Linked DNA regions of Homo sapiens. The protein of the gene in region 1 purifies or fractionates together with the protein of each later gene. This does not show direct contact. Each region holds a gene or a part of one and is shown on either strand. Other genes may lie near its edges.

Region 1 (7,124 bases):
TACAGCATTTTTCCTTGTCCATGAAAAAAAAGTTGTGTGTAGGGGGGAAATAACCAGCATCAGTACAGCAGCTGTTCTTAGTTCTTGACATTACCGTGTCCCAGACTCTTTCATTCAATTGTATTTACTCCAAGGAGTTTTTGTTTGTTCTGAACCATTTTGCTGAGTATTGTTGCTGTCTTAAGAACAATGAACTCCCAGACCCACATGGTTTCATGAGTGAATTCTTTCAGATCTTCAAAGAGCAGAGTTCTTAGGCTATTTAAACTACATCAGAGCGGAGGAAGAGGAACTCTGCCCAGTTCTTTTTAGGAACCAGCATAACCTTGATACCAAAACCTAGCAAAAATAACAGAAAAAGGTGAGTATAAAATGAATCTCAATCATTGATTTTAAATAAAAATGCTACCAAAGGAACCAATATATACTTAAATATTACACCATGACCAAGCGTAAGATTGGTTCACAAACTGCAAATATACTAAAGTAATTCACTATCCTGTTAGGTCAAAGATGAAAAGTACCTATGAAAGGTTATGATAGATGTCAAAAAGCCATTTGACAAAATCCAACTTCCATTCCTGATAAAAATGTTAAGAAGTAATGAATATACACACCAAATGAACATCCAATATCTATTATTTAAAATTGTTCTCAAAGTGCTATCTAATACAATAGACACTCCCCATCCCCAGTTGCAAAAATGACTTTGGATGCAATCCAAACAGTTCTCTGCAAAAATCACAATGAGCTAGAAATATTAAAGGAAACTTCCCTGATAAATATAATTTATTAGATATTAATAGTAACTTCATATTTAATGATGACATAATAAAAACATCCCCAAACTAAGAAACAAGATAAAGGATGGCCAGAATCACTGTTTTATTTACCACTATTCTGGGGAAGCCAGCAATTCACTAAAGCAAAGAAAGAAAGAGATAAGATGAATTATAATTAGATGATTGTTTTCCTAGAAAATTCAAGTGAAACAATTTATTAAAATTAATAAATTTAGAAAGTTGGCCAGATACATAAACACTCATCTACATACCAGTCACAAAATATAAGAAAATATAATGGTTAAATCCCAAAAAGAGTATTTTAATGAAGCATGAACAGTTTATGTTAAATTTTATCTCAAAGATAATGCAATTATATTCAAGAAAATTTTGAAAAGGAAAAATGAAGAGGGACTTGTCCTATGAATTACTAGAAAACGTAATATCAAAGCAGATTGGTATTTTTAAAGGAAGAGACAAAAAGATCAAAGCAACAGATGAGTCTAAAGAAAAGATGCATGTACACTTGAGAATTTACTATATTAAGGAGGTATTTCTAGTCAGTTGGGAGAGAAATGATTTCAACAAATGATTTCAGGAAAAAATGGCTGCCTAGTCATAAAAACAAAGAAAAAAATTAAATCCTTATCTTAGCATACAAAAATCATTTTCAGATGTTTTAATGAGTAAATCATAAAAAGAGAATTAACAGGCAATATAGGAGAAGATTTTAAGAATTTTTGAGTGGGGACTACCTTCTTACCTGAGATAAAAAGCCTGGGCATTTTAAACCAAAGCATTGATAATTCTTGAAAATATTTGCCATATATTTCACAAAGGATTAATGAAATCTGTAGTCTAATGAGAAACAGATAATTTTGAAGAATACTGGGCAATATATACGGACAGGACATAGTAAGTGACAGTTAACTATAATTTGGTACATCTACACAATGCAGTACCACGCCAACATTACAATAAAATAGAGCTACATATGGCAAGACTTTCACCATATATATATATTTAATCTGAAACAGATTATCGAACAGTATGCATAATCTCATTTTCATAAGAAAGCAAAATAACATGGTTATGCACATACAGGAAAGATGTGGAAGGCTTGGATTACAACTGGGGAGAGGACTGAGAAGGATTTCACTTCCTGCTTTGCACATAGTTGTATTATTTGAGGATCCCTCCTCTCTCAAATGAGGACACAATAATTTTTAACAGAATGCACTGCTTGCTTCTCTGCTACCTCTCGTTTGGGTGTGTATTCCAACCGCGGTAAGAAGGCAGGTCATTTTCTTTTCCTTCAATTTCACGTCGCTTCTTCACTTCCTTTACTACCATCTCTCCCTTATTATAACTTGTCAAAAGCATCTCCTGTGAGGTGAGATAAACACCACTTTACATAGCAAGGCTGCTTTACTTTTGCTCGTTATAGCATAACAATAAAGGCACAGCTCTTCTTTGATTATCCTCCCCCTTTCTACTTCTAGAAAAGCACAGCTTTTTTGCCTGTAACTCGTTGCTAGTCAGTTTACACCGGCGTGAGGACTCTACCTAACGCCTGGGTTCCCACTGTGGGCGGGGTTGGCTTCTGTTCTTCCTGCCTTGGCCACCCACTCCCTCCGTGACCCTCTGGGAAGTTACCCAACTTCTCATTGACCAGGCTATGATGACACCCCACAGGAAGGCAGAGGGGAATTGTGCAACCACCTTGGGAAAACAACAGAAAGAACCAATTAAGTTTTCGAAAGAGTAACCACGATACTACTTGATTCTAGGAGGCAGTCTCTCTCCCGAAGGGAAGTCGGGAATGTTCCTGGAGGGTCCACTGCTCACCTCGACACCGCAGGCCCTTCCACCCCCATTTCCCGGGCAAAGCAGCCGGGACGAGTCCCTCCCTTGAAGCCGTTGGGGCAGAGGCCGACGATGCTATGCTGACATCGCGGGCCCGGAAACCAACCCACAAGGAGTCCGCTCCGGGGGAAGGACTCGCGTGGTTTCTCCCGCACAAAATCCCTCCCCAAACTGCAAATTGGTTGTCTCCGCTGCTCCTCGGCTTCTCTCCCTGCGGCGCCCCTACTGTCAGCGCGTCCCTCTCGCTCACGCATACAAATTCTCCGACGTCGTGCTTGACGGATTCGGACACACCAATTCACAAAGTTTCTTACTCACACAGTTCACGCTTTCAGCTGCGTTCCCTCTCCCCTCAGGTCGCCGGCGCCTGGCCGAGTGACTCCAACCGGAAGTTGCATTTTGTTCCAGTTCAGAGGGCAGTGCCTGCGCGCGGAGCCATTAACTCTTCACCTCCACCCAACAAGGCCAGGGCCCTTCCGCCCTGCCCCACCCAGCCCAGGGCTCTTCTGCCCCGCCCCTGCCCGCCCCGCCTAGCGCCCTCCCCCAGCCCTGCCCAGCCAAGTCCCCGCCTCTTAGAAAAAAAAAGCGTCAGCAGCGGAAGAGAATCCTATGTCAAGTGTAAAGGTCACTTGTGAGTCTTTGCTGGATTTTTTTGCCAAACGATAAATAACCGGTAAATAAATAACCAGTAAATAAATAACATCACCCTATATATGAGTTAGAGTACACAAGAATCACCTGAGAAACAAAATGTAGTTTCACCAACCGACTCCTACAGCTTTCATTTCAGAGCAACTGGAGTGAAGCCCAGGAACCTGCATTTTCAACAGATCCTCGTAAATTTATGTAATTAAACGTGGTTAAAGTCCACACTCTGAGAAACACTACATATACACATACCCATTTGGTTTCTCCCCAACTGGTAGTATTTTTCACTAAATGTATTTGTTAAAGAGGAATGGCTGGAAATGGAGGTGGAACTTTATTAGAAAATTTCCCATGAATTAAGACTTTCCCATTATTCCAATTCCTAGCCATGCATGAATATTATCTAAGATTCATATCTTAGATACCGCAAGAAAGATATCTTTTCCCTTTAGGGCAAGAGGATGAGGTCTGGCTGCCCCAATTTCTCCCTGTATTTCTGAATCATGGATGTTTACACATCTTTCCTTAGGCCAGTAAGTCCAAGGATTTAAAAACCTGCCAAGTTGCAGTGCATTCTGTCTAGTTATCTTGAATGTTGCTGTATACTTTTAAAAGTCAAAGCCTAAATATATTTGAAACAATGTTTTTAACAAACAGAAACTTCTTATATATAACGTTTTGACCAGTTGAATAGTTTTCTTGTAATAAGTAATTGAGTTAAACATCACAATACAGTACTGCTTTAAAAAAATTATTTAAACTTTTTTTGAGGGCAGTTTTAGATTCACAGCAAAATGGAAAGGAATGTCCAGAGATTTTCCATATACTTTCTGCCCCGACACAAGCATAGCCCTTCCCCATTATCAACATCCCTCACCCCAGTGTGATGAAAAAAAGCTGTTATAAATATCTGTGTGCAGGTTTTTTTGTGCGGACATAAGTTTTCATCTCCTTTGGATAAATACCAAGTAGTATGATTGCTGGATCATAAGGTAAGAGAATGTTTAGTTTTGTAAGCAATTGCCAAATTGTCTTCCAAAGTGGCTACCATTTTGCATTCCCACCAGGAATGAATAAGAGTTCCTGTTGCTCCAAATCCTTGCCAGCATTTGGTGTTGTAAGTGTTCTGGATTTTGGCCATTCTAATAGATGTGTGTCATATTTTATTGTTGTTTTAATTTGCATTTCCCTGATGACATATGACGTGGAGGATCTTTTCATATGGCTATTTATTTACCATCTGGTTAACTTCTTTGGGGAGGTAAAGGCCTTTGGCCCATTTTTTAATCAGGTTGTTTTCCAAATGTTGAGTTTTAAGTGTTCTTTGTATTTTTGATAAGTCCTTTATCAGATATGTCTTTTGCAAAAAATTTTCTCCTTGTCTGTGGCTTGTCTTTTTACTCTCTTGACAATATCTATTGCAAAGCAGAAATTCTTAATTTTGATGAAGTCCAGTTTATTCAGCACTGCTTGAGCAAATTAAATAAGCTGATTTGAAGATTTCTGATTGAAATAGTGGAATTTAGTAATATACTCAGAGTCTAAAGCTGAATGCATAGGCATTTTGAAATATGGAGGTGCTAAAAACTTTGAATAAGGAAATAGCTAGATATACACATTTCTTAAATGCGTATTTTTCTCTTTCCACTTCCATGATGTTGTAGTCTTGAAGAGAAGTGGCTGCATAATTCCCCTGTATGTGAAATATGCATAAATGCTGGTAGAATTATTTTGTAATCAATGCTAAAATGGCATCAAACATTTTCCTTTTCCTATAATGATGATTTTTTAAGAATTCACATACAGTATGTTTTACAAAGGTTAGAAATTGAGTTGACATTTATTTGAGGAATAATCTTTTAAAATAATGACATAATTTTATTCCAATTTTCCTTCACTCATATTATTATATACCTCAAGTTAGTGAGCAGTGATGTGGCTTTGGAGGTTGGGTATGGTGGCATGAAAATGGGGAACTGACCAGGTGTGGTGCTCACACATATAATCCTAACACTTTGGGAGGCCAAGGGCAGAGGATCACTTGAGCACAGGAGTTTCAGACCAGCCTGGGCAACATAGTGAGACCACGTCTCTATTTAATAATATTAATTAATGAATTATTATTAAAAGAAAATGAGGGAATTGCAGGCCTTTAAAAGATATTTTGGAACCTGGACGGGTGCAGTGGCTCACGCCTGTAATCCCAGCACTTCGGGAGGCCAAGGCGGGCTGATCACTTGAGGTCAGGAGTTTGAGACCAGCCTGGCCAACATGGTGAAAACCCGTTTCTGCTGAAAATACAAAAATTAGCCAGGTTTGGTGGTGCACACCTGTAATCCCAGCTATATGGGAGGCTGAGGCAGGAGGATCACTTGAACCCGGAAGGCAGAAATTTCAGTGAGCCAAGATCACGCCACTGCACTCCAGCCTGGGCAACAGAGAGAGACTCTGTCTCAAAAATATTTTGAATCCTAGTTTTAAAACTGCTTAATAATTTATTGAGACTTCTGAATATAAACCTAAGGACAAGGAAACCTGGCAATATAAACAGTTACTATGACTTGGAATGTCAGTTATGTTCTCAGTCAAATCTTTGATGTGCAATATCACTATTAATGGAATCTGGTTGACTTCTGATTTACGATGACATCTGGACTGGCTGATTATATTGCAGACTCTCCAACTAAAATGGCTATGAAAAATCAGAAAAACATGAGAACTCACAATGGCCTTGGAAGGCAGACTGACAACCAGGGCCACTGTGTATGGTTGAGCAGGCTGTGCTCAGTTGCAAAGCCTTGCCTCCTTCAGCCTGTGTCTTCTCAGAGAGGTGCTTTTTCTAACTCACAGAAAAGTACCATAAGAGCAGCTATAACCCTGTTGACAAGCACCCTAGTTCCAGAATTTGATAGGATACTGGACTTATTGCAAGAACTGTGAAGCTGAAATGGACATGTACTTTTTTGTTGGAAGGCAATCAAAGGTGTTGGTATGGAAGGATAGTAAGGAAGCTACCTGCCTCACGGCCCCTACTAGTAATTCCACTACTATGTGTGATGGCTAAGAAGTATTTTACACCTCTTTGCCCTAATCTCTCCCATTAGTTTCTCCACTCTATGACCCATTTTGGAGCTACGGCCTAGAGAATACCAGCAATAACCCAAAGGGAGTGGATAGGTGTAATGCTCTGTGTCCAAGCTTAGGAAACTAATAATGAAAGGGGTTGGGCAGACAGAACTGGGTGTTTGTTTCTCTGGGGGTTTACTTTTTCATATATGGTTCTTATCAAGAAAAAGACAAATCATTGTTTCTGATTAACCAGGAATTCTTCTCTTTATAGTAAAATAACTAGCTATTAAAGGTAAGGAATCTCACCTCAGCCCAACACCCGCAGTGACAAAGTTGATAAATGTCAGCTTCAAACCAAAAAGTTAGCTGTTGACTGTGCATGTCTATATGTCTTCCAGTTCAACATCTATGCTGAAGAACTTAATAGCATCAGACAGATAATGAGAAGAGCCAAGAACCAAAATCCACACATTCAGGTAGTAAGGTTGACACAAGGCTTGGAACGAGTAATTCAAGAGAAAGCATCCCTTTGAAAAGATTATGCTGTCTGAAAGAGAGTCTTCAAAATACAAAGAAAGTGAATACTTTGGAAAATTATTTACCAGAAGCAGAAGTATATGGAGAGAATCTGCTTTGTATTTTCTATGCAAAAAGAGATGAAATACATGATAAGCTATTAGACTAAGATAAGGAGGGAACTAGAGACAAGGTGAAATAAAACCAAAGTTGGATAAGTTAAGTCTGTAAGGACACAGAACA
Region 2 (5,221 bases), on another chromosome or scaffold:
CCTCATCACAGTCTCTAAATAAGTGTCACTTCTCAGCCCTGAACTCAGCTGAGTCACCCGGGGCTTCCCGGTGTAGGCTGTGTTAGGACGTGCACTTCCTTTGTCATTTGAGGGGAATTCTCAAAAATTATGTCACTGAGATACAGTCAGAATTGTAGGGTACACACGAGTTTCAGGAGACTTTTCATTCAGCTCTGTAGTTGTTAGTGGGGGTTGGTTTGGGTTGTGGCTTCGGTGACTCCTGACCCTGCGTGGGGCAGAGGTTAGATTCCTGTGTCCAGAATCACCTGGTTGAACCCGATTGTCTGCAGACAGGACAGTGTCATGGGCTCCAAAGGAGGTAAGCAGGGTGCATGGCCAGGCCCACCCTGGGCAGCTGGGGGCCCCCTCACTGGAGATCCTCTGGTTTACAATGGGATTCAGCTTCCTGCCTTCCCTGCTGTCTGTGATAATGGCAAATCTCTGGCAATGAGAAGACTTTATCATGTCTGGTGTGCCAATCCCTGCAGACATTATGGCTTTAGAATATTTACATTCCAAATATTTAAAAGACAAACAGCTCAAACTGGTAGGTGGGACGGGATAAGGACAGTGTGAAAGGTGGTGTGGCCTGAAGACCTCCCATCCGGGCTCTGGCCTGGGCCAGGTGGGGTGGGCCTGGGCAGGGAGAAGGTGGTCCCTTGTCCCTGCTTTGCTTCTCTACCAAATGAATGATCACTACCCGCTGCACTGGGGGACGCAGTGATAATCTGTGGCCTCAGCCTCTGGGTCTAGCTTTCTCCCCTCTTGCTGTATGTGACAGAGTGTCTTCTCTCTGTCCCTTCCTCATGCAGTCGGAACACACAGATGGGCACACCTCTGTCCAGAGTGTTATTGAGAAGTTGCAGGAAGAAAATCGACTGTTAAAACAGAAGGTGACTCACGTGAGTGTCTTTCACATTTCGTTTGAGAAGAACACATGGCTTACAAACTGTAAGTGAGGGTTCTTTCCTTGGCTGATGCCCAGAGTCGCCCCCCGCCCTCTGGCCACTAGGACTTGATACACACAGTCCCTAGAGACTGGACTTTTTTGCTTAAAACGACGTACGGGACATGTCCTGTCCATCTCCATCCCCCTAAAATTAATCCACAAGTCAGTAAAGGAGATGCAAGAGTTAGCAGCAGGAGGTCCATTTTCTAAGACAGCAAAGCTGCACCGAGTCCACCTCCGTTCATGCTGCTTGCGTACGGGTGTCATCGTGCTGCCTCAGGATTCTCTAGCGGGCCTAGTGTCTGCTCTCTACAGAACAGGGAGGGGCAGCTTCCATTTAAGAGGAAACTCTCACTCAGCGAATCACTGCTAATACATAATTCACACTGGGTGCTGGCTTGAGCAGCTTTGTCAGCTGCCTTCACCGTGAGCTTTCCGGCTCCACCTCTTCAGGTTGAAGACCTCAATGCCAAGTGGCAGCGCTACAACGCCAGCAGGGACGAATACGTGAGGGGGCTCCATGCGCAGCTCAGGGGGCTGCAGATCCCCCACGAGCCCGAGCTGATGAGGAAGGAGATCTCCCGGCTCAACAGACAGTTGGAAGAGAAAATAAATGACTGTGCCGAAGTGAAGCAGGAGCTGGCGGCCTCCAGGACGGCCCGGGATGCTGCGTTGGAGCGGGTGCAGATGCTGGAACAGCAGGTGTCTGTCCCTCGGGCTCCGGACGGCACTGACCAGATGTCTGCTGGCCGGTGGTGGCCGAAATCATGGGACAGGCTGGGCTGAAGGCTTGGTGGCACTGAGTGGGCAGTGGTCACTGTGGGGGTGGGAGAAGCCTGGTGGGGCGCTTCCTCCTTCCTTGAGCAGAAATGTGTGTCTCGCCTCTCTTCAGATTCTCGCTTACAAGGATGACTTCATGTCAGAAAGGGCCGATCGGGAACGGGCTCAAAGTAGGATTCAAGAACTGGAGGAAAAGGTCGCCTCTTTGCTGCACCAGGTGTCCTGGAGACAGGTAGAGTATGAGGGCGTTTTTCTTCCTGCTTAGGTTTAGTGTTTTTGTTTCTCTTCTCATGAGATTAGAGCCTTTCTGTGTCTGCCAAGGCCCTGATTTGCTGGTGATGAGGGTTGTGGCGAGCCCCTCCCTGCTGTGGGGAGAGCCACCTGGCCTGGTACCTGGGCGTGGTCATGGAAAGCCTCCCTGTTATACTGTTTAGTTATGGAGGAGGCTGGCATGGCGGCCTGTCTTAGCAGAGGTGGCTGTCCTCAGGGCCCGTCCGTCACTGTCATGCAGTCAGAGAGCATATCTCGGGCCTCAAAGTGTGAGCTCCCTACGTGTCCTGACCTGTCTGTGAGACGGGAACCCCGCTTACCTTGTCATGTAGATGTGATGGCCCTGGGTGTCCAGTAACATCCCCAGCTCAGCCTGGCACGTGGAGCTGGGCCTTGCAGGGCAGGGGCCCCTCACCCCACCCCTGGGCTCAGTGCTTTTCCTACCATGGGGTGCCTTGAGGGAGGCCTGGCATGAATGGGAACCGATGAAGTTCCTCAGTGTGTGACCCATGGCCTCTTCCTTCTCCTCACTGACTTGTGCTCTGCAAAAATCCAGGAGAAGTTTATGTAGCTCCTCATCAAGTACCTAACACACTTTTGGCCCTGGGAATAGCCTGGGCCCCACTCAAAGAGCTTCCTCTCCTGGCACAGACTGAACAGTAGTGATGCCTCTTGAGAATCGATGCGTCCCGGGCTGGAGCTAGGACGTCAGCCGTGTTTCAGGGTGTGAACAGGGACCCTGGGGCTGTGAGGCCACCCCCCACTGCCCTGTTCCGAGCAGCCACTGGGCCTCAGTGGTTTCTGCTTCTCCTCCGCATGAAGGGCACGGGAGAGTCATGGTGGACTATGGGACTAACCCTGGGACTAAGTCTGCAGCAGAGGGCTGGACAGGTTTTTCTGGCCTTCATGAATTCAAGGAAGCATGTGATTTGGATTGAAGGAGCACTATTGGTACAATCGTGAGGATGGTCTCAGGCCGCCTCTTGAAGATTTTGGACCAGATGAACTGGTTCCAGACTTGCAGGCCCAGATTCTTACCCCCGGGGGTAAAGTTCCTGGTGGGGCCTGCAGACCTTGTACTAAGTGGCCTCTGGTTCCCTTTCAACAGTAGCCTGTGGCCCCTCGAGGGTTGCTCAGTCCCTAGATGGCACAGCCAGGGACAGTGGTGCTGAAGGCATGGGTGATAAGCTGTAGTCCCACTGGGGAAAGTCCACATTCAGACAGGAAGTGGAAGCACCAAGGCCTGCTGGAATGAAGTTCCCAGGCAAGCAGTGAGGGCCACAGGCTGCAGTGCTTCAGGACGGATGTTTGGAGAACATGTGCCAGATCATGCCAGGTGGTTGGTGGGGCCAAGCCAGGGACACCTCTTGCTGCTACTGAAGGACCCCCTGAGCCCCAGAGTGCTCAGCACCCCCAGGCCCCACAGAGGAGGTGCAGAGTAGGGTTGGTACTCAGTTTGCCCAGCTCCCCACCAGAGGCTCTGCCACCTCCACTCTGTGGTGGCCTGTGGGCCACGTCATCAGGGCCACCTTCTCAGTCAGGTCTCCTGGGGCCGATAGGTCCAACTGAACAGGACTTCCACCAAGGGGCTGGGGGGTGGACCACGCCAGGGCCTACTTCTTCATGAGCACATGACGGAGCGTGTGTGTGATCCTCAGTCATTCACTGAGCGCCCCCTTGTCTGGGCTCTGGGGCGCAGCAGGAAGCAAAGTGAGGGGCTGAAGTTCCGCTCAGGGATAGGTGAAGTGCCTCTGGTTGCTGGAACCTGAGACCTGGCTTTGTGACCGTCAGCACAGCCCACGTATATACACCCTTGCCTTTTCTCCAGGATTCTCGAGAGCCAGACGCCGGCCGGATTCACGCTGGGAGCAAAACTGCCAAGTATTTGGCCGCCGACGCATTAGAGCTTATGGTGCCTGGTGGCTGGAGGCCTGGGACTGGGTCCCAGCAGCCAGAACCCCCTGCAGAGGGCGGGCATCCTGGCGCGGCCCAGAGAGGCCAGGGGGACCTTCAGTGCCCTCACTGCCTGCAGTGCTTCAGTGACGAGCAAGGGGAAGAGCTCCTCAGGCATGTGGCTGAGTGCTGCCAGTGACCGAGACTCACCCGTGCCCTTGCGGCCTCCTGGCCCGGTGCAGCTGCCCTCAGGGACAGGGTGGGTGCTCTCAGATGCCATGGGTTGAGCTCTACTGAGAGCCAAGGCCCCTAGAATAGTTGCGGGGCACTCTGATCGTTCACTTTGGTCCCTTTGGCTATGGAACAGGCTGGGTCACAGGGAACTGCCAGTGAGGCTGGAGGCTGGAGGTGGAGATGGGGTCAGGAACATCTGGCAGAGGGAGGTCCCAGTCTGTGTCTCCATCAGGCTTAAGCCAGAGCTATCTGGTGCTGGTGTGCCAGCCCCTCCCCCAGCCTGCCTAGAAAGGGGTGGCTGCCTGAGGGAGTCACTTGTATGGTCCCCAGGGTGGGAGCCCCATCCTGTTCTATGGAATAAAGCGTCGCCTCTCTGCCTCGAACCAGTCAAATGGAGTATTGCGGCTGCACGTCACACTAGGGTGGCCACCCCCGCCATTGCGAGCCACATGTCTGCACTGAGAAACTGCATTTCAGTAGCATTTGTCATCCAGCCGGAAGTTAAAGCACACTTACTTTATTCACCTATTTTTATAATAAACGTTCTTGCTGCTGTGACTGCTCTGAGAATTTGTGTTGGAAGCTGGGGTGCAGGGACTGAACAGTATTTACAGCAGCTGGCATGGGAAAACACTCCTGCTGTTGCCTTCTGCCAGGGCACCAAGACAAGGGGGTCAGTGGGAGCCTGGCTGTATTAGGGTTCTCTAGAGGGACAGAACTAATGGAACAGATAGATATATAAAGGGGAGTGTGTCAAGTATTAACTCACACGATCACAAGTTCCCACAATAGGCCGTCTGCAGGCTGAGGAACAAGGAGAGCCAGTCCCGAGTTCCGAAACTGAAGAACTTGGGAGTCCTATGTTCAAGGGCAGGAAGCATCCAGCACGGAGCAAGATGTAGGCTGGGAGGCCAGGCCAGTCTCTCTTTTCACGTTTTTCTGCCTGCTTTATTCTGGCCACGCTGGCAGCTGATTAGATGGTGCCCACCCCGATTGAGGGTGGATCTGCCTTCCCCAGCCCACTGACTCAAATGTTAATCTCCTTGGCAACACCCTCACAGACACACCCAGATC

The links. The genes of interacting proteins can lie anywhere in the genome.
Region 2: the proteins of TANK (region 1) and TNIP2 purify together in Homo sapiens (affinity purification with mass spectrometry; 3 studies listed by BioGRID and IntAct, with this or other methods). This does not show direct contact.

What each region holds. Positions count from the first base shown.
Region 1 is NC_000002.12:161,156,329-161,163,452, reverse strand, and holds the start of TANK (TRAF family member-associated NF-kappa-B activator), read right to left. Parts: upstream 3,026-7,124; 5' UTR 2,967-3,025; exon of another isoform or gene 2,903-2,966; coding exon of another isoform or gene 2,631-2,902; intron 2,505-2,630; exon of another isoform or gene 2,166-2,504; coding exon of another isoform or gene 2,041-2,165; exon of another isoform or gene 92-2,040; coding exon of another isoform or gene 1-91.
Region 2 is NC_000004.12:2,741,148-2,746,368, reverse strand, and holds the end of TNIP2 (TNFAIP3-interacting protein 2), read left to right. Parts: intron 1-833; coding exon 834-923; intron 924-1,423; coding exon 1,424-1,672; intron 1,673-1,862; coding exon 1,863-1,982; intron 1,983-3,848; coding exon 3,849-4,112; 3' UTR 4,113-4,721; downstream 4,722-5,221. UniProt on the Homo sapiens protein: Inhibits NF-kappa-B activation by blocking the interaction of RIPK1 with its downstream effector NEMO/IKBKG.